Homo sapiens: one gene and its partners. The protein of the gene in region 5 purifies or fractionates together with the protein of the main gene of each other region. This does not show direct contact. Each region holds a gene or a part of one and is shown on either strand. Other genes may lie near its edges.

Region 1 (3,422 bases), on a different chromosome or scaffold from region 5:
TAATTCTGAGAGCTTTTCTAAAATTCCCCTCACAGAGCATTCCTTTTTTTGTTGGGGGGTGGGGGTGGTTAGAAGTTTAATGAAAAGTGGGTTCACAAAACAAGAGGGAAAAAGTAAAACAGCTGTTAAATCATGTGCTTAATACTATTTCACCAAGGAGTGGTCGAAAAGAATCTTGTGCCCATAGATGCTACCACCATTAGGTTGATTCAAAACATAGTTGTTAAGGAATAGTTGAGTGAACAGAGAATTCATTAGTTATTGAATAGTTTTTCCTTTCTCAATGCAGTAATAGTAACATTTAAAATTTTAAATAACCAATAGTTTTATAAGTTGGCAAAGGAAATGATCTTAAATATTTCCTTTTGGGTTTGTTTGGTTGGTTGGTTGGTTCGTTTTTTTTTTTTGTTTTTTTTGTTTTGCTTTCTCTGATGACATATCTTTTATTTCCTATTACAGCAAAATTCATACCAACCAACAAATAAAGGAAGATACAAAGTCTTATAGACATCCGGAAAAAAGATTTTTACCTGTGCTGGTCTATGATGTATGTGGCAGTTGCTGTCTGCAGTTTACAATGTATTGTAAATGAAGATTTTTTAAATTCTATCTTGCTGATTTTTTTTAAATATAAGAAACTGGTACTTGGTAAAGAAATCTGTCCGTAAGTACCCCCACAATCAGTCAAACTATATTTAAAGCCAGCCTGTTTTCAGAGTATGATGTCCTTTAATGTAAACTCAAATATCAATATTTTAAATGTCCGGATAATATTCTAGAGGTTTAAAAAATGGAAATATTTGAACTTTCTATTGAAGACAATAAAGTACACAAGTCGTTAAGGGGCTATTCACTTTATCCTGTACTTTCAATGAAATTGTGATCATTTCCTAAGAAAAGGTAAAATTCACTATCATATTTTGTGTCCCCACCTTGATGTTACATGACTCTGGAACAATATGAACTGGATTTAAGAATGTTATAATAGAAGTCTTACAAAATGGGTTGAGAGTTTTTGTTTCAATTTTTATCATCATAAATGGGCAAAAAGTAGTTGGACTAATTTCGGTTTTTATACAAGTAAAGATTTAATAGTATAAGGATTTTTTTGCATTTCTTTACACTGAGTGTAAAACTCTACAAAGAGTTATAGTATTTACTACTTTGAGGTTTCCCTCACAACTTCTGGCTCCATACCTAGCCCCTCTTTTATAATCTTCCTTAAAAGAAAGAGTGTAGCCTATAAATACTAAATATGATACCTTTTCCTTCTAGAAAGTGTTTATTTATATATCTATACATGTTGTATGTACAAATATCCTACTACTTTTAATCTGATTTTTCTTCAGGATTATTGAGTAGGTTGTGAATTTTCTTTCTTAAAAATTGTAAAACATAATGGTACCCAAGTTTTAAACTTAGATGTGCTTCATCTTAGTGAAATTTAATTCACAAGGAATCATAAATTGTGTTTTTGAGGCTGGGCGCAGTGACTCACACCTGTATCCCAGCAATTTGGGAGGCCGAGGTGGGCAGATCACTTGAGGTCAGGAGTTCAAGACTAGCCTGGTCAACATGGTGAAACCCTGTCTCTACTAAAAATACAAAAATTAGTCGGCATGGTGGTGGGTGGCTGTAATCCCAGCTACTCAGGAGGCTGAGGCAGAAGAATCTGAGCCAAGATAACACCATTGCACTCCAGCCTGGGCGACAGAGTGAGACTATCTCAAAAATAAATAAATAAATAAATAAATAGTATTTTTGAGCCTTCAAGATACAGTTCCTGAATATTCTAATTTAAATTGTTATAATTGGATTACCTAATATTCTTTTCAAGACTCCTGATGTATTAACTTCATGTTATTGTCACTTTTCAAAAAAGGAATTTTTTTCAGGAGTTAAATAAAGTCAGTCTTTTATATCCAAGGGTTTCAAACCCACAGATTAAACCAACCACAGATCAAAAATAGAAAAAAAAAAAAAAAGAAAAAAAGAATGTAAAATTTTAAAAATACAGTTTAACAGCTGTAAAAGTTTTACTATAACATTTACATTGTGTTAGGTATTTTAAGTAATTTAAAGGTTACAGTATACAGGCGGTTAAAGTATACAGGAGGATGTGCATCGGTTATATGCATATAGCAAGCCATTTCATATAAGAGGCTTGAACATCCATGGATTTTGGTATAGAGGAGGGGTTTAAGGGGTGTCCTGCAATCAGTCCCCCTCTCATACCAAAGGATGACTGTATATTTCTTAAATGAAGAGACTTTCATTCTTTAAATATTATTGACTTACAGTTTAAAAATAAATAAATAAAAGCATACTATAGTTGTAAAAACAAATAATTTTAATAGTATATTCAGTGGCTGAAGTGATAGGGAGTATTAATCATTATTTCTTCAGTATAAAGTTATTCTTCCTGAAAAAGTAAGATATACCTGGGAAATATTCTTGGATCCTTCACACATCCACTTAATTTCTTGAAGGAAGAAAACAGACAAAAGACATGTAACAACAGAAACAAATAAACCACTTACTGTAAAATTTCAGAAATTGTGGGCTCATTCCCTCCCTCTAGTTTATTTATTTGCTCATCTTTATCACCTAATGGTAGTTTGTTTTCTTTGGTAGAGTATATGGCAGTCCCACATCGATGATAATTGGTGCTCCCTTCATCCAACTGGATCACTTTGAGATTCAGTTTTACATCATTTTAGCATTTTGTTTGTATATCAGTTGTGATGAGCCACTGATAAAATTTTGTTCTAAAATGAAACATATTACTTTGTTAGTACATTTTTTAGTGTCACACTGACTTTTAAAATTTGAATGATATATAGACTTTGTTTTTTTAATGCAATATGAATATTTGCTCATGTTTTCTAAATTCCTTATAAAATAAAATTAATTCGAATTCAATCTGCACTTTCTTAAAATTATCTTTCCTCAATGCTTTTTCTTTCTTCTGTTTCTCTAATTTTGTTTATGTTGGTGAGAGAAGTATTATACTCTCTATTTTTATTTAAAAAATTCTAGCAACTTATTACCCAAAATATTTATAATTCTGTTCCAAAAATGTCTTCCTGAAGAAGGCTCTTAAGTCTTTTATGTTCATTGTATTTAGCATAAGAGAAACATAGGTGAAATAATAGGTTCATTTACCAGTTGGGGTTTTGCCACAGTGACACTCTTACAAAATGGATATGTAGGCTGGGTGCGGTGGCTCATGCCTGTAATCCCAGCACTTTGGGAGGCTGAGGCAGGCAGATCACCTGGGGTCAGGAGCTCAGGACCAGTCTGACCAACACGGAGAGACCCAGTCTCTACTAAAAATACAAAATTAGCCAGGTGTGGTGGCACATGCCTGTAATCCCAGCTACTCGGGAGGCTGAGGCAGGCGAATCGCTTGAACCCGGGAG
Region 2 (3,500 bases), on a different chromosome or scaffold from region 5:
CACGTGCCTTTCAGTTGTGAAGGCTGCCCTCCGTCACAAGTGAGCAAGAATAAAAGCACAGGCTAGGGGCGGTAGCTCACGCCTGTAATCCCAGCACTTTTGGAGGCCAAGGCGGGTGGATCACAAGGTTAGGAGATCGAGACCATCCTGGCTAACACAGTGAAACCCCGTCTCTACTAAAAATACAAAAAAATTAGCCGGGCATGGTGGTGGGCGCCTGTAGTCCCAGCTACTCGGGAGGCTGAGGCAGGAGAATGGCGTGAACCCGGGAGGCGGAGCTTGCAGTGAGCGGATACCACGCCACTGCACTCCAGCCTGGGAGACAGAGTGAGACTCCGTCTCAAAAAAAAAAAAAAAAAAAAGAATAAAAGCACAAGCAGCCCCTGTCCCTCACAGCTGGCCAGTGCACACAGCCAGGGTCTTGGTGTGCCCAGCTGCAGTCAGCTAGGAGGGAAGCCACCCTGGGCACAGGGAGAGCTGCCTGGGCTCAGGTTTCATCCCTGGAATTCCTTTTGGGCTGGTTGTGGTGTCGCCTCACCTTGGTCCTCCATGGTGGCTCACTGCACATAGTGCCACTCTCAGCCTTTTTAGCCTGCAAAAGGTGTCATCGTGTCTACTCTGCAAGCTACTGGCGAGGAAGGCAGGCAAGGGGCAGCCAAAAAAGGGAGGGATGGAGAAGGGACTGGAGGGAGGAAGTAGAGAGGGGAAGTACACTGAACTGGGCCTGAGGTCCGGGACACCCAGCACCAGGCACCAGCCAACTCCCTGCTGAAGGAAGGAAGAAATAATAGCAAGTCATCAGTCTGCTGGGGTGAGGGCAGGGTGGGGACTGATGACAAGACTCTAGGGTATAAAACAAGTAGTGCCCTCAGCCCCTCTGCAGACACGAGCCTGCCCAGATGAGAAGCACCACCCTCCCAGAGCATCTGGAGCCGGTCGCTGCTTCAGACAAGGCCAAGAGGTTCCATGATCAGAGCAGGGTCTGTCATACAAGGCTGGGCAACCTGCCCAACACCTCCATCAGAGCCTAGCGTCTGCCATGAGAAGGCTGCACTTATCTTTGCAGCCACCTCCACCTTCCTAGGCAGGCAAGGCTGCAGAGAGTGTACTTGGAGTGTCATGTCTCTCCACACCCTGGCCCTGCAGATGCCCCACAGACAGGTCTAGAACATGCACTCCTAAAGGATACAAGAGCTGGAGCCTAGAGGAGCCCTGGCTCACAGCTGAGAAAGCTTGGGAAGCTGCATCCAGGCACTCAGGCCATGGCCTGCAGCGAGCCTGCCCCACAACCAAACCCACCCACTCTTTCACCTGGCAGCCAGCCTCTGAGTGCACGTGAGATGTGTGCGCACCTGCGGGAACTGACAGAGCCACAACTCGGTTCCAACAGCCAGTCCAAAGCACACTCAATTCCTAATTCAACTCAAGGGCTCTGGAAAGGCCTAAATTGTTGTAAATTATTCTAATGGCTTTAATATAAGTCTAGAGAACCAAGGACTGCTGGTCAGGGAGAAAATGCCACCAGGTCCCCCGGGGAGCATGAACCTGCTGATGGAGAAGCATCTCTCTCCTCCAGCTGCCTGGTAGCCGGAAGCTTTGCTCAGAACGTCCCTACCTTCCATGGCAGGTGCCTGTCCTTCTTGTTGCCATAGCAGGGCCCTTGTTAGGTCATCCTGCCCTGCAGCCTCGCACTGTGCCCCCTCTGTCTGCTATCAGGCAGGGTGAGCAGCTGTCTGTATGGATGTGCTTATCTTGGGCAGCTTGCTCGCCCCCTGTGCACACCCAGGAGCCCTCTCGGGCTGATAAACACTGGCATAGGGCAGTCGTTTGCAAGCATAGGAAATCTGCCTTTAAGCACTTGGAAGGGCTTGGGTAGCCTGCTGGGAAGGAAGGACCCCAAAGTACCTCAAAGGTGGGTAGGGCAGATGCTGTTCTGTGGGAGGAAGGGCTGGGTGGCAGGCGTTACCTGGGGACACACCACCTGTGCACTCCAGTGTCCTGGAGAACCTCATAACCTTGCCTTTCACCCACTTTAGCCAGGCATACCCTCTCCACCTGCAGGGCTTGGCCCCAGCAAGTGTCTGTCTTGCCTCTGCCTTCTGACATATTGTCCATTAATTTTCTGCTCCTCTTTGAACCCACTGCCTGGTACAGGCCAGCAAAGAGCAGGAGCCCAGAGCTCATAGCAAGGCCCAAGAGAATGCAGCACTGCACCAGTGAGGGCAAGTGGAAGGGTCCCCCAAAATGTGCACCCACAGGCAGGCTGGCCACCTCAGGGTGCCACCTCAGGGGCCCTCCTGTATGGCTGCTCTATCTAGAGCTCTTTCCTGGCAGCAGGTGTTGTCATTCTGGCTCCTGTTCAGGGGCTGCATCGCCCACCCACTCCAAGCCTGGGACAGTTCAGGTCTTCCTACTCTAAAAGGAGAAACTGCAGGGCCCACAGTCCCAGCTACTAGGGAGGCTGAGGCTGGAGGGTGAGTTGAACCCAGGAGTTCAAGGCTGCAGTGAGCTATGATAGCACCACTGCACTCCAGCCTGGTTAACAGAGTGAGACTCTGTCTCAGAAAAAAAAAAAAAAAAAAACTGCACCCCTAGTCTGGGTACAGTGGCTCACACCTGTGTTGCAGGAAGTCAGGAACCCCGAATGGAGGGACTGGCTGGAGCCGTGGCAGAGGAACATAAATAGTGAAGATTTCATTTCAATATGAACATTTATCAATTCCCAAGTAATACTTTTATACTTTTTTCTTTTTTTTTTTTTTGAGGCAGATTCTCTCTCTGTCGCCCAGGCTGGGGTGCAGTGGCACAATCTCAGCTCACTGCAAGCTCCGCCTCCTGGGTTCACACCATTCTCCTGTCTCAGCCTCCTGAGTAGCTGGGACTACAGGCACCCGCCACCACACCTGGCTAATTTTTTGTACTTTCAGGAGAGACAGGGTTTCACCATGTTAGCCAGGATGGTCTTGATCTCCTCACCTTGTGATATGGCTGCCTCGGCCTCTCAAAGTGCTAGGATTACAGGCATGAGCCACCGCGCCTGGGCCCCCAAGTAATACTTTTATAATTTCTTATGCCTGTCTTTATCTCTTAATCCTGTTATCTTCATAAGCTGATAATATACATCACCTCAGGACCACTGTGATAATTGTGTTAACTGTAGAAATTGATTGTAAAACGTGTGTTTGAACAATATGAAATCAGCGCACCTTGAAAAAGAACAGAATAACAGTGATTTTTAGGGAACGAAGACAACCATAAGGTCTGACTGCCTGTGGGGTCAGGCAAAAAGAGCCATATTTTTCTTCTTGCAGAGAGCTTATAAATGGACGTGCAAGTAGGAGAGATATCGCTAAATTCTTTTCCTAGCAAGGAATATTACTATTAAGACCCTGGAAAAGGAATGCATTCCTGGGGGGAGGTCTGTAAACGGCCACTCTGGGAGTGTCTGTCTTATGCGGTTGAGATAAGGACTGAAATACGCCCTGGTCTCCTGCAGTACC
Region 3 (3,500 bases), on a different chromosome or scaffold from region 5:
TTGGGAGGCCGAGACAGGCAGATTGTTTGAGCTCAGGAGTTGGAGACCAGCCTGGGCAGTGTGGTGAAACCCTATCTCTACAAAAAATATAAAAATTAGCCAGGCCTGGTGGTGCCTGCCTGTAGTCCCAGCTACTGAGATGGGAGGATTGCTTGAGCCCGGGAGGCAGAAGTTGGAATGAGCTGAGATCACACCACTGCACTGCAGCCTGGGCGATACGGCAAGACCCTATTTCAAAAAAAAAAAAAAAGCATAAACCAATTTTTAAAAAAAGTATGCAATAGAATATGGGACTTTAAAAAAGCCTTCCCTAAATGTTTCCAACTTGCTTCATCCTGTAATGAGCAGGCTTCATCTAAAGCTCGTCATACTGAGCCACTCTGCTGCACCAACTCTCTGATTTGCTTTGTCTTTCGAAAGCTTTATTTATAACCGGTTCCTGCAAAGGCTTAGTTTGGCATGACAAGGCATTAAACTGTTCATCGAGGTGAAAATTTATAGCCTACTTGTGCTACCTTAGACTTTTAAAAAATTGTTCCATGAGGGTAAGTCTTCTCATCTAGAGATGCCTTTTTTTGATTCGCCTCTTGTACCCAGCCTGTCGCATAGCATGTAAATCCTGCAGGAATGTTTATTAATTTAAATTCACCTATGAGAGTACATTCTGGTCTTTGAGTAACATGAATTCTATAATGTGTATCTTTAAAAAATAAACCCATAGTTAATGCCTTGGATTAACTAGTTTAGCACTGATTGTTTGTGATGCTAAGATTCTTCCTTCCCTCTCACCGAGATGTGTGTGCTTGGATGACAAGGAAAGATGGAGTCCCCAGCAGTTGTTGAAACACAGCTTTATAAATCCCCAGCCAAAAATGCCTCTAGTGGAACAAAGTCCTGAAGGTGAGTCTGTTACCTTTCTTTATTTGGTAACCTGTTTGACATTAAATTATTTTGAAAGTATACATAAACCAAAAACTGGAAGGGGCTGCATGTGTTATTTTATGTCTTTTATTCTGAACTAAATCCATTAGTTTGATGTGTGCCATGTGCATGGGACTGTTTTGCCACCCTGATTTTTCTAGTCTCTATTGATGGAATGAATGTCCATTGCTGTAGTCTCTTGTAGTGTTTAGTCACCCATAGTGCCATGTAACTAGATTTTTCCTGCTGCACCTGAGATTAAGGAACCTCGGTAGAGATTGGGATGGATCATGAGACCTGAGTTTTGGTTCTAGCTCTATAGTTAAGTCACTTATTCTATATAATCCCCCACCTGTAAACTTGGGCTAATTATATATTTCTGCCTACTTTAAGGAGGGCAAGGTGAGGAAAAGTTTTAAAAGGCCACTCAGGTAAGAGGTAATTTTTCAAACTACTGGTTGGAGCTCTTCTTCCAGGGCTTCCATCATTGTTGGCTATGTAGCTCTTCCTAAATTTCCAATGCCTCATGTGCCTCTTACTCCCTGTTTTATCTCAGATTCTGAAGGACAAGATTATGTTGAGACTGTTATTCCTAGCAACCGGCTACCCAGTGCTGCCTTCTTTAGTGAGACACAGAGACAGTTTTCCCGATACTTCATTGAGTTTGAAGAATTACAACTTCTTGGTAAAGGAGCTTTTGGAGCTGTCATCAAGGTGTGGTACAGAGTCATTCCCAGTCCCCTTTAGAGCTCCTTCTCTGTTCCATTTCCACAAAGACTCATGGACTTTACTTTTATTTTGGGAGTGGGGAGGGAAGTGAATATGGCTGTTGGATACTATGCTCATCCTCACCTTCCTGGAGTTAAAGGTTTTATTTAAGTTACGCTGGACACAGTTGAGAATTGTCCCACTCCTCTTTCCTTGCTTCATGTGGAGCATTAACATGAAACACACATGGTTATAACAGCACTTCAAGTGGAATCAAGACCTCCACAGAAAGAACATTTTTGTGTGCTTTGGTTCAGAAAGAACATTGTTCTTTTTTTCTCCTGTTTGCTGTTAGAGTTGCTGTAGATAAAAAGGTTCTAAGGTTAGAAGAGAGATGGACTTCAAACTGGGAGATGGCCCCAGCAGGTCTCGATGGCTTTTATTTTCCAGCTATTATTGGGACAGGAAAGTAGCGATGTATTATTAAGGTACACTGTTGTTGGGTCTTCCTTTCTTCGTTCTAGTCTATTTGGGTGACTTTTATTATTATCTGCCCCTTGTAGAAAGAGGTTTCAGCTGTTTTTATATAATAGAAGTATTTCTTTGTAAATTAGGAGACCCAGATTATTGTATTAAGTCCATATACAGTACATGTCATCTTTCACATATGAAGGTAACCCACCATCAACTGAGTATATTGTCTGTTAAGGATTCTGAGAGTATCATTAGGAAGCATTACTGTTACTGTAGAAAAACTTTTACACTAAAAAAGGAATTAAATTAGTTTTCCTGTGGTAAAAGACAGACAAGCAAGACAGATGTCCTGATCAGAAAGATCATAATTATGTCTAAGAGGAGGGGATGATTGAAGCGTATACTGTCCCTTTAACACAATATCATTTTGATCAAATCCTTTAACTTCATTCTATTTTAAATTCTTGAACGTAGAATAGTAACAAATTTCATCTCTTTACAAGTACTTAATAATGATAGGCAAGCTCATATAACAAAAACATCTGAGTAACTTAAGCCCCCACGGTTTCCAGTAGTTTCTCCCTGTGAGAATCCACAGCCCTCACCTCCTACCTCTGTGCTTCTGTGTCAGAGTAGGGCAGCCTGCCCAGTGATCTGGCATTCATTAGCAGTTGGACCCATTACTGTTTCTGCACCTTTTCACTTCAGTAAATGAATTCCTAGGGGTTTCCAGTATAGCAAGCTTTACTCCCAACCCAGTTCGTATATGATGTGTACTGAGACAGGAGATCGAAAGGCAATGCCAAGATCCCCACCTCCCGCCCTACACTGTCCTCTTCCCTATTAATGTGGCAGTAAAAGAACACAGGGCTATCATTTTTTGGAGCACCTGCCATATTTCAGATTGTGTGCCAGGTGATTTACAAACCTTGTCTTTAAATCTCAGGACATTCTTACGAGATGGGTATGATCCTCATTCCCTAGATGAGGGAACTGAAGCTCAGAGAAGGTTATGTCCTTTGCCTGAGATAAGGGAGATAAAACCAGCATTCAGACCCACCTCTGTTGTACTACAAAGTGTGTGTTCTTGTCACTATTTCCATACAAAAAAAGATAATCTGAAACTCAATTTTGTAGTACTTCCTTCTTATTCCCAGGACTTCACTTAGACTTTTATTAGTTTAATTGAAACTTGTGAGCCAAACAAGAGAATGATATTCTGTTTTGTGTTTTGTAATCAACTAATTTCTCCTGCCACCCATGGCCACATGGCATTTGCTTTTCTAGAGTATATCATCACCTCAGTTGACCTGCACGGATGTGACTACAAGGTTTCAGTGAATAAGACTCTGTAAAAGTTACTTCAGTCACCCCAATTACATAGTGAAACTGCCTGG
Region 4 (3,500 bases), on a different chromosome or scaffold from region 5:
TAAACAATAAAATTAGAAACAAAGGTTACACGAACAAGAGAAAAGATTTTTATACATATATACATTATTAGGACTCTAAGGTTCTTTACATATATATACATATTATTAGGACTCCTAAGGTTCTTAAGTTTATTTTTGAAACGTCAATTTCAAATGAAGAAACATTTACACTTACCAGTAGAGTAGGAGTTACAAAAGTAAGGCAAGGATTCTCCATGCCACCATAAGGGAAGGATGGTGGCAGGACCAATAGGTCATACTGTCCCCATACATACGGTCCTCCCAGATCTTCTGCTATTTTAAGCATAGATTCAGTCTGAAAAATCAACATATATATGTCTGTATGCCTTAATTATCACCATTGTACATTTCTTAAAATTGTATATTGCTTTCTATGAAGGTTACAAGTTAATGATTTTTATGTTAAATGAAAATGATAAAAAGAATGTAGCAACTACACATCTACATAAAAGACAATCTGGTTCTTTCCCCGTATCACTTAAAACCATCACATTTCACACTCAAAATCTTCAATCTACTGTCTATCACAATGATTACAAAGGATAACTAAATGACCAACCTCAGAAAACTCATAAGCAGACTTTTCCACCTGCTCTTTCTCAGACCACACCAAAGTTCTTGGGCCAATTTGCCTGCAAGATTAAAAAGCTTAATAAAAAAGAAATTCATGGCAAATGATTCATCTGGTTCTAAAAAGTAGTTAATGTCTTGTAGACAAACCTTTACAGTGAGAGTGCATTTACCATGTGCCTATGGGAAAGGGATGAGGTTACATGGCGTGAGCTGCAAACCTGCTGTTGTATATGCAGCAATAGATATGCAGCTCTCTAAGGAGGTACAGGCTGGGCCAAAGGAAAAAAACCAAGACATAAGGTGTCCCCAATTAGTTTATTGCCTCTTGTAAGACCTCTTGAGGGTCTCATTTCATCCCTCAATTTCACAACTATAGAAACCCAGTCACAACTCATAAGAAACTATTTTTTTTTTTTTTTTTTTTTTTTGAGACGGAGTCTCGCTCTGTCACCCAGGCTGGAGTGCAGTGGCACGATCTTGGCTCACTGCAAGCTCCACCTCCCAGGTTCACACCATTCTCCTGCCTCAGCCTCCCTAGTAGCTGGGACTACAGGTGCCCGCCACCACGCCCAGCTAATTTTTTCTTTTTTTTGTATTTTTAGTAGAGACAGGGTTTCACTGTGTTAGCCAGGATGGTCTCAATTCCCTGACCTCATGATCCGCCTGCCTCGGCCACCCAAATTGCTGGGATTACAGGCGTGAGCCACCACGCCCAGCGTTTTTTTTTTTTTTTTTTTTAAATATACAGGGTCTCATTCTGTTGCCCAGGCTGAGTACAGAGGGGCCATCACAGCTCACTGCAGCCTCCACCTCCTGGGCTCAAGCAATACTCCCACCTCAGCCTTCTGAGTAGCTGGGACTACAGGCATACACTACCATGCCCGATTAATTTTTTATTTTTTTGTAGAGACATGATCTCACTTATGTTGCCCGGCCTGGTCTTGAACTCCTGGGCTCAAGCGATCCTCCCACTTTGGCCTCCCAAAGTGACGGGATTACAGGCATGAGCCACAGAGCCCAGCCTGTAAGACTATTCTAGAACAGGAATGGGTATAAACTTTGTCATGCACTTAAAGGTTGAATACTCTTATATAAGAAGAAACAAATAGAAAATGAAGGAAATCCTGTCAGATGCTATAACGTGGATAAACCTTAAGGGCATTATGACACCTTGAATGAAATAAGCCAGACACAAAGAGATAAAATCATACTGTATGATTCTACTTATGTGAGGTATCTAAAGTAATCAAATTCATAGGAACAGAAAATAGAATGGGTGTTACCAAGGACTGGGCGGTGGGGGAAAGAGGAGCTATTGTTTAATTGGTGCAGAGTTTCAGTTCTGCAAAATGAAAAATTTCTGAAGATCTGTTTCACAACAATGTGGATATACTTAACACTACTGAACCGCACACTTAAAAACAGTTAAGTGTGCTTAAAACTAAGAATGAACAAAAAATTAAGAAGGAAGGGCACTTTATTTGTAAAATATTGATAAAATATCTTACATTTCTGTAATATTTGTAGGCTTCCAAGTTCTTTAATATATTTTATCTCATTTGTTTCACATAACCACCCTATGAGGTAGAAAGTCAGACATTATAATTTCAAGGATAAGGAAACAGAGATTGAGAGTGACTTGTTCAAGCTTACATGAGAATCCAGATCTCTAAAGGTAAGAGCATGCTCATTTTACAATACTTGAAAAAATAAGGGGTAACTGGTCAAGATTTTTAAATGTAAAATTAATTTGTTGCCTACATTTTAGATTTGAATTTTTCTAGAGCTGTCAGCTTGATATCTTGAGAAATATGCAAATGATTGACCAATTAACCTTGAGAGAAGTTCAAGATGCCTAAGTTTTGATCTTTCCACAAACCTGAAAATTTTTCCAAAAGCTCACCTGCTTTCTAAAGCTCCAACAACTAAAGCAATCAGGTAGCAGGGTATTGGAACCTAAAGAGGGCAAACAAACGCACACCACGTGCTTGCATTAGTGTTCACAAATGTTACACAGTAAGACAATTCATATTTAAAAGTAAGTAAATTCCCTTTCAAATCTCCTAATATTAGTAGGGATAACTTTGCTTTTATACTTCTCAAATAGTTCTCATCTTTAACATATAGCTTAAAATTGTGATATAAAACATTGTTCAAAACATCTATTTGCCTTTTATTCTGCTAGGAACAAAAGCTTCTCACACATGAAAAACAAGATCACACATACTATTAAAAGGTGCATTTTGAGCATTTCTCAAAAAGTAACCTACAGGAAGCGCATTTCCCATATGTTTGCCTTTTTCCTCCTGACTTTTAAAAGGTTTTGGTTTTCTTTTTTTATTCCTTTATGTTTCAAAGCACTATTGGCATGTTGTAGAGGCACACAGAGTTACCCGGCAATAAGTAGATGCCAAAGTTATGGGAGCTTGGAACCACAGAAGCTGCAGTGGAAGTCAAATTATCCATTGTGAGGTCAATTAAGAAAACACACACACACACACACACACACACACACACACACTCACGCATGCATACACATTCTGTTCACTGAAGGTCAAAGATACATGTCTAATGACCAGGACTGTAACTGAGTGCTTTTTTGGTCTTGACTCCTCCATTTGTAAACACTCTCAACAGCCACTTGCCCACACTGTAGTACCAGGGCAGGTGAATGCGTAAGAACTCAAAAGAACAGGAAGCCAGCCCCTGAACTGGAGTGAGGGAAAATGAAAACAGGTATGCTCCCTATTCTGTCTCTACAGCAAACCCTCTCTTCAATACAACACTCTGTAAGTAGAACAAAACCCTTTAAAAGCACAAAAGAAAAAAAAATGAAGAAAACAAAAACCAAAAGCTGTTCTCAAAATTCTGAAATATTTCAAAAGTAATTTTGCCCTCTGGATGTG
Region 5 (3,500 bases):
CCCGGGCCCAGGCTCACTCTGGGATCCATGTGTGGCCTGGAGGCCACCAGGTCAGCAGGCATTTTCCCTGGTTCTACCTGCACGTAGGGTGCACAGGCAGAGCCGTGAAGGGCCGAGCCGCTGCGGGACTGGGAGGGGGGCTGCCCGCCAGGGCTGCGTAGCATCGAGCTCCTGCTGGGACTGGGAGGAAGCTGGCCTGGCTGAGGCGGACCTCCTCCTCCTTCCTCTGCGTGGCCCTTGGCCTTTAGTGCACCTGGGGGTTTGGCGCAGTCCTGTCCCAGGATGTGGGCGTGGCCTTCCCTCTTTGTGTCCTGCTGGACACTCAGGGAGGCCCTGAGTACCCCCAGGAGTCAGCCCAGAAAGCCATGTTCCAGCCACAAGCTGACATTGCAGTCTCGCAGCAGCCGGGGCCTCCACAGCTCTGGTTCTCACGTGGGCTCCGCTGCTGCCCCCGTGAGACTGGGGGGAGGACAGGTGTCCCCACTGTGCCCTGTTTCTGTACCTGTGAAGTGTACACAGCATGGAGGACCCTTCCCAGCAGGCTGGCGCTCATCCTGGAGCTGCTGCAAAGCTTGCGTTTCCACAAGCATTGTAGATGCAGTGTGGTTTTTCTTTTGTCCCTTCCAGATGTGGTAACGAAGTACAGCAACTTCGTCAGCTTCCCCTTGTACTTGAATGGAAGGCGGATGAACACCTTGCAGGTGAGCCCTGAGTTCCTCTAGGGACTGGTCAAACATGGAGACAAATCTGTACGTTTCAGGGCAGCGGAGAAGAGATGAGCCCAGGGGATGCGGCCCAGAGTCACAGGGCGAGCTGCTCTGTGGAGATGAGACCTGGGTGTGGGGATGAGACAGGGGCCCAGCTCTACCACAGCCCTGCCCCTGTGCACCGGGCAGCCGGGGTCAGGGGTCAGGGTTCACTGAGGCGTAACGCCCATCCCAGCTGGCTCACCACATCAGTGTGCAGCCATGGTGTTCAGTGCAGCCACAGAGCTGTGCAGCCACCCCGCATCAATTCCAGAACATCCCATCACCCCAAAAAGCAGCCCTTTCCCCACTGCCCCTCCCCCAGTCCCAGCAGCCACGGTCTCCTTTCTGTCCATTGTGCTGCCTGTTCCAGACGTTTCTCCTGGATGGAGTCACACGGCATGCTGTCCTCAGTGACTGACTTCCCCCTCGCGGCTCAGCTGCGGTGCAGCGTGGGTCGTCATCGCTCTCACGGCCCACACTGTATTCGTCAGCTCGCCCCTGCTGGGCAGCGTCATCCTCTCCCACAGGCCCCCTCAGGTCCCGGCTGGTCCTCCTGACATGTTGTCCTGAGGAGCTCCTGCCCCAGAGCCTTGTGTGTCTCCCCTGCACTACCCGGCATAGCCCAGCGGTGGGGCTGGAGAGGGGTCTACGCCTGAGACCACCGCCCGTCTGTCCCAGGAGCCTGTCCAGGGCCAGGCGCTGCACTGGCTCAGGCCTGCACGGTGGTGGAGAAGACGTGCGTGGTGAACACGACGCCCTCCCCGCCGATCTCCGTTTCCAGGCCATCTGGATGATGGACCCCAAGGATGTCCGTGAGTGGCAACATGAGGAGTTCTACCGCTACGTCGCGCAGGCTCACGACAAGCCCCGCTACACCCTGCACTATAAGACGGACGCACCGCTCAACATCCGCAGCATCTTCTACGTGCCCGACATGGTGAGGCACTGTGGCAGTCCCACGGCCCTCAGGGTGACTCTGTTGTCCCCTGTGGCATCAGCTCTGCAGATGTCACATGATTAACATGGCAGTGTGAGGGCATGAAAAACATAGGTAGTGCTGGGTGTGGTGGCTCACGCCTGTTATCCCAGCACTTTGGGAGGCTGAGGAGGGTGGATCACCTGAGCCCAGGAGTTGCAGACCAGGCTGGCCAACATAGTGAGACCCCATCTCTGAAAAAAAAGAAAAAAAGAACAGATGCCTCTGGGTGGGTAACCACAGAGGTTTCCTCTGTCTCAGGGGTCACACATGGCGAGGGAAGGATTGATGGGCATCTCAGTGCAGGCTGGGGTGGAGGCTTGTGGACTGGGGTGTGCCTGGGGAGGGCCCTCAGAGCCTACATCATCTGCTGTGGATCAGTGGATGCTGTCCTGCCAGGCGCTCTGGGAAGGGCCTGTGGTCTTGCCTCTCCGTTGGCCTCTCTGTGTGCTTCCTCCACACCCTCCACCTCCCCTGGTTTCCTTTACCACATTGAAGTTCCCGCAAATCCTGCCGTAAGGAGACCTATTCGGGGCTGAGAGCCAGCCCGTCCTGCCCCCAGGCTCTTCTGTCCTTGGCTGCCTGGAAACTCTCCTAATGTCCTGCACAGCTGGCATCCATCTTGGAAAGAGCCAGCCAGGTGTGGCCTCCAGGGGCTTGTTAGAGTCTCAGGCCCCACCCAGGGCTCCTGCGTGGGAGCCCACATTTTAATAAGATCTCCCCGCATTTTAACCGGATCCCCCCCATTTTAACCAGGTCGCCCCACATTTTAACCAGGTCTCCCAACATTTGAACTAGATACCCGCCGCATTTTAACCAGATCCCGTGATGAGGTGTGGGTCCCGGTTCGGGAAGTACCAGTGTGGAGCAGGTGTTGGCAGGCACGTTCCACGAGGGCCAGACAGGAGCTGGTCCCAGCGTTTCGGGCCCGGTGTCTTTCGTAGCCACTAACCCTGCCGGGTGAGGAAGCAGCACTGCCCTGCTGCCCTCTGAGCACACAGGGCCGGGTCCCATGAGCTGCGTAGACACTGAAATTTGAGTTTCATCTTCACGTCTCATGAGATCATCCTTTTTGAAATCTTTCCTCAACTGTTTGAAAGTGTAAAAACCACTCTTAGGCTACACAGAGGTAGGCAGTGAGCTGGATCTGGTCGGAGGGCTCTTTGCTGATCCCTGACCTGTAGCAAGGTTTGGCTGTGTTCAGTGTGTTCAGGGGTACGTGCAAGGTTCACTCTCTTGTGTCCTCCTTAGGGGGTGGGCTGGGGAGGGCGGCAGCTGCCAGAGAAGGCCTTCAGCCCCTGCAGAGCCACAGTGTGGGGCATCGTGGGGCCCCTGCACTGGGCTTCAACTCAGAGCAGACGCTGGGGGAGGGCGAGGCGGGAGTGGGCTCTGGATTCATCGTGTCCGCCCCCACCTCCCAGCCAGGGCCTGCCTGGGGAGGGTCAGTGCTGCATGATGGCGTGTTCTCCTCACCCCCAGAAACCGTCCATGTTTGATGTGAGCCGGGAGCTGGGCTCCAGCGTTGCACTGTACAGCCGCAAAGTCCTCATCCAGACCAAGGCCACGGACATCCTGCCCAAGTGGCTGCGCTTCATCCGAGGTACGCTGCTCAGAGTCCGTGAGCAGTGCCCCCGTGGCCCAGTGTCGCCCGCTGCATCTGTGAGGGACCGTGCTGATTCCATTCTCAGCAGCCCTCTGCAGCGAGAGCACCGCCGTCGGCCTGCGCTGCCTGTGTGTCAGTCGCGTTTACAGACCCCGGGAGCTGCCCCACCTCC
Region 6 (3,500 bases), on a different chromosome or scaffold from region 5:
AGGATGGGGGTGGGAGCAGTTGTGGCCGGGGATGGGCAAGGGTGGGTAGGGGGTGTTGACTGTAAGCAAAAGCCAGGTGGAAATATTGTAGGTTGATCTATCAATATTTCCCCCTAGTTTTCCTCATTGTGAACACAAGGACTTTGAAAAATTACCTGCTCTTAACATCATTCACTAGCCTAATCTTTCTTAAATATTAAATACAGAGCATGTGGTCAATTACCCAGACCTATTAACCATTAAAGCAGGATGCCCACTAAGGGAGTACTCAACTCCTACCAAAAGCTTAGTGAACACTGCTTAATTTCATCTGGCTCAAAAATTCAAGTTACGTTTGATTTCCGCCTATAGTTAGGAAATTTCAATACAATTTTTAAATTTTTTAGAGGGCATGCTTTCATATTCCTGAGATACACATATTTATATTCTTTTACATATCTGTCTGTAGAATCTCTCCTTGCCACTGCTTGTATCTTGTCCCCCTCTTGGGTGTATTTCTCTAGATCTATTTATATGTCTGTATTTCTGACTTCTTATATGGATTGGTTCTCTCTCCCTCTCCCCCTGGCATTAGTTATTCCATCTTCTTCCCTTCTGGGTTCCGGGAACTCCACAGATGTAAACACCACTGGTTAGTTGCCACAATAAAGAGACCACATCTGTGGTCCTCAGTTTGATCTGTTATTTTCTTTTCTTTCTTTTTTTTTTTTTGAGACAGGGTCTCACCCTGTCACCCAGACTGGAGTGCGGTGGCGCAATCACGGCTCCCTGCAGTCTCGACCTCCCTGGGCTCCAACAATTCTTCCACCTTAGCCTCCCAGGTAGCTGGGACTGCGGGTGCACACCAATATGCCTAGCTAATTTTTATATTCCTTTGCCATGTTGGACAGGCTGGTCTTGAGCTCATGGGCTCAAGCAGTCTGTCCACCTTGGCCTCCCAAAGTGCTGGTATATTTTCTCCTTTGTTTTCCATGAATAATAAGATTCTCTATATTCATTCTCAGATCTAAATTAATCTATGACTCCCATTTATCTTTATCTTAAACCAGAGTAGTTTTCTTTTTCATGGAAATATGAAAACTGTAATCTGGTTTGCTTTAATGAATTTTAATTAAATTATTGTTACAGAATAATGGGTTACAGTAGTAAAAACATTTTTTAAAGTTTTTAAAAATTAAAAAAACTTACCCTTTTTGTATTTAATTAGGAAAAGTAAAAGAATTAGCTAGTGTTTGAGTCTTTGCTTGAAGAGAAACATTTGTGATTGTATAGAATGATATAAGAGTATTTTTTAATGAAATAAATTCTTTCCTCAAGAAAGGATACTATGGACTTTTTCTTCCAGAAAGTTGCTCAAGACAGTTTCTTCTTTATCCATCACAACACCAGTTACACAAAAAAGGAAGATAGCATAGATTGCTAAATACGTCAATAACTTACTACTTACAGACATGCTTATTATAGGGGCACTAATATGTATCTGGTTTAATATTTCTTCCACTTTGTTCTCCAGGAGTCATGTTATTTTAGACTCCTGTGTTTCTCTCTCATCTTTTAAACAGTGCTCCCAGATGATAAACAGCCTTCCCTTCTAATTTAGGATATTTGAAATTTGTATGTCCCCTAACTGATATGAAAAATATATTTACAGTTGACCCTTGAACAACGCAGGGGTTTAAGGGCAATGACTCCATGCAGTTGAAAATCTGCATATAACTTTTGACTCCTCCAAAACATAACTACCAATAGGCTACTCTTGACCAGAAGCCTTACTGATAATATAGTCAATTAACACATATTTTATATTTTATATGTATTGTACACTATATTTTTACAATAAAGTAAACTAGAGAAAATAAAATGGTATTAGAAAGTCATGAGCAAGAGAAAATATATTTACCATTAAGTGGAAGTGGATCATCATATAGGTCTTCATCCTCATCTTCATGTTGCTTAGGCTGAGGAGAAGGAGGAAGAGGAGGGGTTGGTCTTGCTGTCTCACGGGAGGCAGAGGCAGAAGAAACTGTGCGTGTAAGTGAACCTGTGCAGTTCAAATCTATGTTGTTCAAGGATCAACGCTAATTAGGTTTTCATTTGATCTGTTGATATGTACGTGCTGCCACCCAAGTGATTCCTTTGGTCCTAGGATGTCTTGTAAAGCTTAAGTCAATTAGAAACTTTTCGGAGGAGGATACTGTTTGTCATAAGATGCCAAAAGCTCATAAGGAAAAGGTAAATTCAACATCACAGGTCAGTTGGGGAACAAAAGTCAAATCTTCTATCTCAATTGATAATGGCCCTACTGTTTGTGGTGAGATGTGGGTTGTTAAAGTGATAGGAAAAAGGACTCAAACTGGGGATTGTGAAACATCACAAGTTAAGAAGCAATTATTCTGTGACTTATGTATGATTTAGTCATAATAGACCCCTTTGATTTAGGCTGGAAAAATCTATTGCCTGGCTCTAGTGATTGTAGTAGAAATCATATTATCCACATAATTTACAAAGATTGTCAAACCTTTTATTACTTGACCTAGAAATATTCTTTAACTCCGTTGATCTCCCCATCCATTTTATTTTAAAAAATTAATTTTTAATTTTTTCTGTTGCCATAAAATACACATATAAGATTTGCTATCCTTGCCATTTTTAAGTATACAGTTCAGTGGTAATAAGTACATTTATATTCTTTATTTTTCCTTCACCCTATCTCCCTCCTGTCCTTTCCAGCCTCTGGTAACCACCAATCTACTCTCTATCCTTATGAGATCCACTTTTTTAGCTCCCACAGATGAGGGAGAACATGCAATATTTGTGTTTCTATACTTGGCTTATTTCACTTAACATAATGACCTCCATTTCTATCCATGTTGCTGCAAATGACAGGATTTTATTCCTTTTTTATGGTTGAATAATATTCCATTGTGTGTATACCACATTTTCCTTATCCATTCATCAGCTGATGGACACTTAGGTTGGTTCCATATTTTGGCTATTGTGAATAAGTGCCATAATAAACATGGAGGTGCAGATACTTCTTTGATATATTGATGTTTTTGTTTTGGATATATACTCAGCAGTGGAATTGCAGGATTATATGGTAGTTCTATTTTCAGTTTTTTGAGGAACCTCTGTACTGTTCTCCATAGTGGCTGTACCAATTTACATTTCCATTAAAGTGTATAAAGGTTCCCCTTTCTCTACCCTCATCAGCATCTGTTATCACTTGTCGTTTTGAAACTAGCCATTTTGAATATGGTTAGGTAATATCTCATTGTGGTTTTGAGGTTTTTCTGATTGCATTGGTAATATTGAACTTTTTTAATGCCTTTTGGCCGTTTTTATGTCTTCTTTTAGAAATGTCTGTTAAGATCTTTTGCCCAATTTTTAATGGGATTATTTGGGGGTTTTGCTATTGACTTGTTAATCCCTTGTCAGATGGGTAGTTCGCAAATATTTTCTCCTCTCCTGTAGGTTGTTCTAGTTCCTTGAAGTGCATT
Region 7 (3,500 bases), on a different chromosome or scaffold from region 5:
GGACACGTTGGGAACAGGCCCCCCAATGTGGCCATAAACTGTCCCCAAAACTGGCCATAAACAAAATCTCTGCAGCACTCTGACATGCTCTTGATGGCCATGATGCCCACGCTGGAAGGTTGTCGGTTTACTGGAATGAGGGCAAGGGACACCTGGCCCACCCAGGGTGGAAAACCGTTTAAGGCATTCTTAAACCACAAACAATAGCATGAGCGATCTGTGCCTTAAGGACATTTTCCTGCTGCAGATAACTAGCCAGAGCCCATCCTTTTGTTTCCCGTAAGGAATACTTTTAGTAAATCTTATCACTGGCTTGCTGTCAATAAATATGTGGGTAAATCTCTGTTCAAGGCTCTCAGCTCTGAAGGCTGTAAGACCCCTGATTTCCCACTTCACATGCTGTATTTCTGTGTGTGTGTCTTTAATTCCTCCAGCACCGCTGGGTTAGGGTCTCCACAACCGAGCTGGTCTCAGCAGTAAATATTGAAAAGGAATAGATACAATTGTCATTATTTACAGATAGAATTTCCAAACAATTCCCAGGGAATAAACTGAAAAACTAACAGAAACAAAACAAGAATGTAGTAAGGTGTCTGGATAAGAGATTTGTATCTAAAAATCAGTAGCTTTACAATGTGCCAGCAGTAGTCTGCTCAGACATCAGTAAATATCTCATTCACATTTCAAAAAAAATTGAAAATGCCCTGAAATAATGTAACCAGAAATACGAAAAAAAGGATATGAAAACATGTGGCTGCTAATGGACATGAAAGAATGTAATACTAGATTCTGAGATGCAATGTTTTTCATTTGTTCTTCCTGAAAAACCATTAGGTTGATGTGCATTACAGTGTTACGATTATGTATGAGTCTAAGGAAAATCAGATGAAATGTCCAAATTAAACCATGAAGGTGCATTGGTAGAGGAAGAGAAAATTAGGGTCAGTGGAGCAAAGCACAGTTAGAGGGAGAAGCAAGGAGGAGGAGGGATCACTGAGGTGGTGCCTGTCCCACAGGAAGCAAAAGCTGACGCCTAGTTCCCAGCATACCTACAGTAAACTTCAGGTCCACTGCATAGCACGTCTCTCATCACAGTAAAACTATGAAGGAACTCAGTGTACAAGGAGCTTCTACAAGATAGGCAGAAGACAGTAGCCAGATGGGCCAAGGGCCCCAGCCACCCACGCCCCTCCCTCTCCTTGAAGACGTGCAGCTCCAACACCACCATCACCAGGGCTCTGCTCAGCTCCTCCTAGTGTGTATCACCACAGGGCTGCTGGCTTGTGTCACGTTCACCACCAGACCCCGCGTCAGGAGTCCCGCCAGGGGTGTGGAGAGGCAGCGCTGCCTGGTTGGCCGTGGAGCTGTATGGAACATGGTGCCTCACAGGCAGTCTGCTTGGAGTCCTGGACCCTGGCTGTATCCTGCTGGAAAGGATGTGTGTGGGTCTAAGATGTGTATGTAATAGAAACATTTATTTATTCAGAAGCTTTAGTCAAAACTTCATTTTTAAGTTTGGAGTAATAAACTCATAGTCTGAATTTCCTAATTTTTCTGTTTAATTTATGTAACTTTTAAGTGAAATGCAAAACAACAGGTCTAAAAGTTAAGCAGTTCTTGGTATGGCTGCTTCTATGGATTAAAAGTTTACAAATAATATTTTGTGCCACAGTCAATGCAAAATCATGCTGCCGTGTTCCGTGTGGGAAGCGTGTTGCAAGAAGGTTGTGGGAAAATCAGCAAGCTCTATGGAGACCTAAAGCACCTGAAGACGTTCGACCGGGGTGAGCAGACAGTGGGCTCTGTGCACACTGTTGGGCCCTTCCTTCTGCAGGGTGGGCTGGTGTCTGTCCCGTCAGTGCTGACTTAGTTCCGTGCTTGCTGTCTGGATGGGTCCTGGCCCACAGCTATAAAGCCACAACCAGTGACTCCATGGACTAGCAGGCCCAGGCTGACAGCTCGGAGGGCCCATGTGACTGGGTCCCGCCTGCCCCTGATGGAACTTTTTGTGTCCCCAGGAATGGTCTGGAACACGGACCTGGTGGAGACCCTGGAGCTGCAGAACCTGATGCTGTGTGCGCTGCAGACCATCTACGGAGCAGAGGCACGGAAGGAGTCACGGGGCGCGCATGCCAGGGAAGACTACAAGGTGGGCCTTCTCACCACGCCCACCTGCACCTGCCTTTTCCTGCCACCTGGTGGGACTCAGCCCCACCCCTGCATTTTCTCTGCATTTTCTTTCGTTGCCCCAAAAGTAAATCCAAAAAATGCCTTTTTCCCCCCTGGTAACTTTGATCCCTGGGTTCTCGCCATCTTCTGGATCACTGTGACCTTTTCCTTGCTTTGGGTCGGCATCCACTGATGCCAGCAGTGGCATCTCCAAGCCAATGTGCTTTGCTGTTAGAAGGCCAAGGTTAGAAGTGCAGCTAGAGTGGCAAGACCAGGAAATAAATGCCAGTTTATTAAATAACGAGTAAGCCATCATTTCAAGCCTGCCCTGTGGAGGAAATGCCAGTTTATTAAATAACGAGTAAGCCACCGTTTCAAACCTGCCCTGTGGAGGAAATGCCAGTTTATTAAATAACGAGTAAGCCACCGTTTCAAACCTGCCCTGTGGAGGAAATGCCAGTTTATTAAATAACGAGTAAGCCACCGTTTCAAGCCTGCCCTGTGGAGGAAATGCCAGTTTATTAAATAACGAGTAAGCCACCGTTTCAGACCTGCCCTGTGGTGGAAATGCCAGTTTATTAAATAACGAGTAAGCCACTGTTTCAAACCTGCCCTGTGGAGGAAATGCCAGTTTATTAACGAGTAAGTCACTGTTTCAAACCTGTCCTGTGGAGGAAATGCCAGTTTATTAACGAATAAGCCACCGTTTCAAACCTGCCCTGTGAAGGAAATGCCAGTTTATTAAATAAGGAGTAAGCCACCGTTTCAAGCCTGCCCTGTGGAGGAAATGCCCGTTTATTAAATAACGAGTAAGCCACCGTTTCAAGCCTGCCCTGTGGAGGAAATGCCCGTTTATTAAATAAGGAGTAAGCCACCATTTCAAGCCTGCCCTGTGGAGGAAATGCCAGTTTATTAAATAACGAGTAAGCCACCGTTTCAAGCCTGCCCTGTGGAGGAAATGCCAGTTTATTAAATAACGAGTAAGCCACCATTTCAAACCTGCCCTGTGGAGGAAATGCCAGTTTATTAACGAGTAAGTCACCGTTTCAAACCTGCCCTGTGGAGGAAATGCCAGTTTAGTAACGAGTAAGTCACCGTTTTAAGCCTGTCCTGTGGAGGAAATGCCAGTTTATTAACGAGTAAGCCACCGTTTCAAACCTGCCCTGTGGAGGAAGTGCCAGTTTATTAAATAATGAGTAAGTCACCGTTTCAAGCCTGCCCTGTGGAGGAAATGCCAGTTTATTAAATAACGAGTAAGTCACCGTTTCATACCTGCCCTGTGGAGGAAATGCCAGTTTATTAACGAGTAAGCCACCGTTTCAGACCTGCCC

Evidence for each region.
Region 1: the proteins of TRAP1 (region 5) and DDX46 fractionate together in Homo sapiens (co-fractionation; one large-scale study listed by BioGRID). This does not show direct contact.
Region 2: the proteins of TRAP1 (region 5) and TXNRD2 fractionate together in Homo sapiens (co-fractionation; one large-scale study listed by BioGRID). This does not show direct contact.
Region 3: the proteins of TRAP1 (region 5) and EIF2AK4 purify together in Homo sapiens (affinity purification with western blotting, with the first as the bait; one study listed by BioGRID). This does not show direct contact.
Region 4: the proteins of TRAP1 (region 5) and LTA4H fractionate together in Homo sapiens (co-fractionation; one large-scale study listed by BioGRID). This does not show direct contact.
Region 6: the proteins of TRAP1 (region 5) and AADAT fractionate together in Homo sapiens (co-fractionation; one large-scale study listed by BioGRID). This does not show direct contact.
Region 7: the proteins of TRAP1 (region 5) and SDHA purify together in Homo sapiens (affinity purification with western blotting, with the first as the bait; one study listed by BioGRID). This does not show direct contact.

The regions. Positions count from the first base shown.
Region 1 is NC_000005.10:134,828,200-134,831,621, forward strand, and holds the end of DDX46 (probable ATP-dependent RNA helicase DDX46), read left to right. Parts: intron 1-459; coding exon 460-507; 3' UTR 508-2,922; downstream 2,923-3,422. UniProt on the Homo sapiens protein: Component of the 17S U2 SnRNP complex of the spliceosome, a large ribonucleoprotein complex that removes introns from transcribed pre-mRNAs.
Region 2 is NC_000022.11:19,931,819-19,935,318, forward strand, and holds part of TXNRD2 (thioredoxin reductase 2, mitochondrial isoform 5 precursor), read right to left. Parts: intron 1,913-3,500; exon of another isoform or gene 1,849-1,912; intron 1,709-1,848; exon of another isoform or gene 1,623-1,708; coding exon of another isoform or gene 1,616-1,622; intron 736-1,615; exon of another isoform or gene 552-735; coding exon of another isoform or gene 539-551; intron 1-538. UniProt on the Homo sapiens protein: Involved in the control of reactive oxygen species levels and the regulation of mitochondrial redox homeostasis. Maintains thioredoxin in a reduced state. May play a role in redox-regulated cell signaling.
Region 3 is NC_000015.10:39,972,115-39,975,614, forward strand, and holds part of EIF2AK4 (eIF-2-alpha kinase GCN2), read left to right. Parts: intron 1-793; coding exon 794-900; intron 901-1,477; coding exon 1,478-1,635; intron 1,636-3,500. UniProt on the Homo sapiens protein: Metabolic-stress sensing protein kinase that phosphorylates the alpha subunit of eukaryotic translation initiation factor 2 (EIF2S1/eIF-2-alpha) in response to low amino acid availability.
Region 4 is NC_000012.12:96,018,588-96,022,087, forward strand, and holds part of LTA4H (leukotriene A-4 hydrolase), read right to left. Parts: intron 2,551-3,500; coding exon 2,498-2,550; intron 2,172-2,497; exon of another isoform or gene 2,105-2,171; coding exon of another isoform or gene 2,103-2,104; intron 654-2,102; coding exon 581-653; intron 317-580; coding exon 176-316; intron 1-175. UniProt on the Homo sapiens protein: Bifunctional zinc metalloenzyme that comprises both epoxide hydrolase (EH) and aminopeptidase activities. Acts as an epoxide hydrolase to catalyze the conversion of LTA4 to the pro-inflammatory mediator leukotriene B4 (LTB4).
Region 5 is NC_000016.10:3,672,525-3,676,024, reverse strand, and holds part of TRAP1 (heat shock protein 75 kDa, mitochondrial isoform 1 precursor), read left to right. Parts: exon of another isoform or gene 1-627; coding exon 628-701; exon of another isoform or gene 702-1,530; coding exon 1,531-1,686; intron 1,687-3,204; coding exon 3,205-3,325; intron 3,326-3,500.
Region 6 is NC_000004.12:170,083,457-170,086,956, reverse strand, and holds part of AADAT (kynurenine/alpha-aminoadipate aminotransferase, mitochondrial), read left to right. Parts: intron 1-1,963; exon of another isoform or gene 1,964-2,208; coding exon of another isoform or gene 2,209-2,232; intron 2,233-3,500. UniProt on the Homo sapiens protein: Transaminase with broad substrate specificity. Has transaminase activity towards aminoadipate, kynurenine, methionine and glutamate. Shows activity also towards tryptophan, aspartate and hydroxykynurenine.
Region 7 is NC_000005.10:249,320-252,819, forward strand, and holds part of SDHA (succinate dehydrogenase [ubiquinone] flavoprotein subunit, mitochondrial), read left to right. Parts: intron 1-1,672; coding exon 1,673-1,784; intron 1,785-2,018; coding exon 2,019-2,149; intron 2,150-3,500. UniProt on the Homo sapiens protein: Flavoprotein (FP) subunit of succinate dehydrogenase (SDH) that is involved in complex II of the mitochondrial electron transport chain and is responsible for transferring electrons from succinate to ubiquinone (coenzyme Q).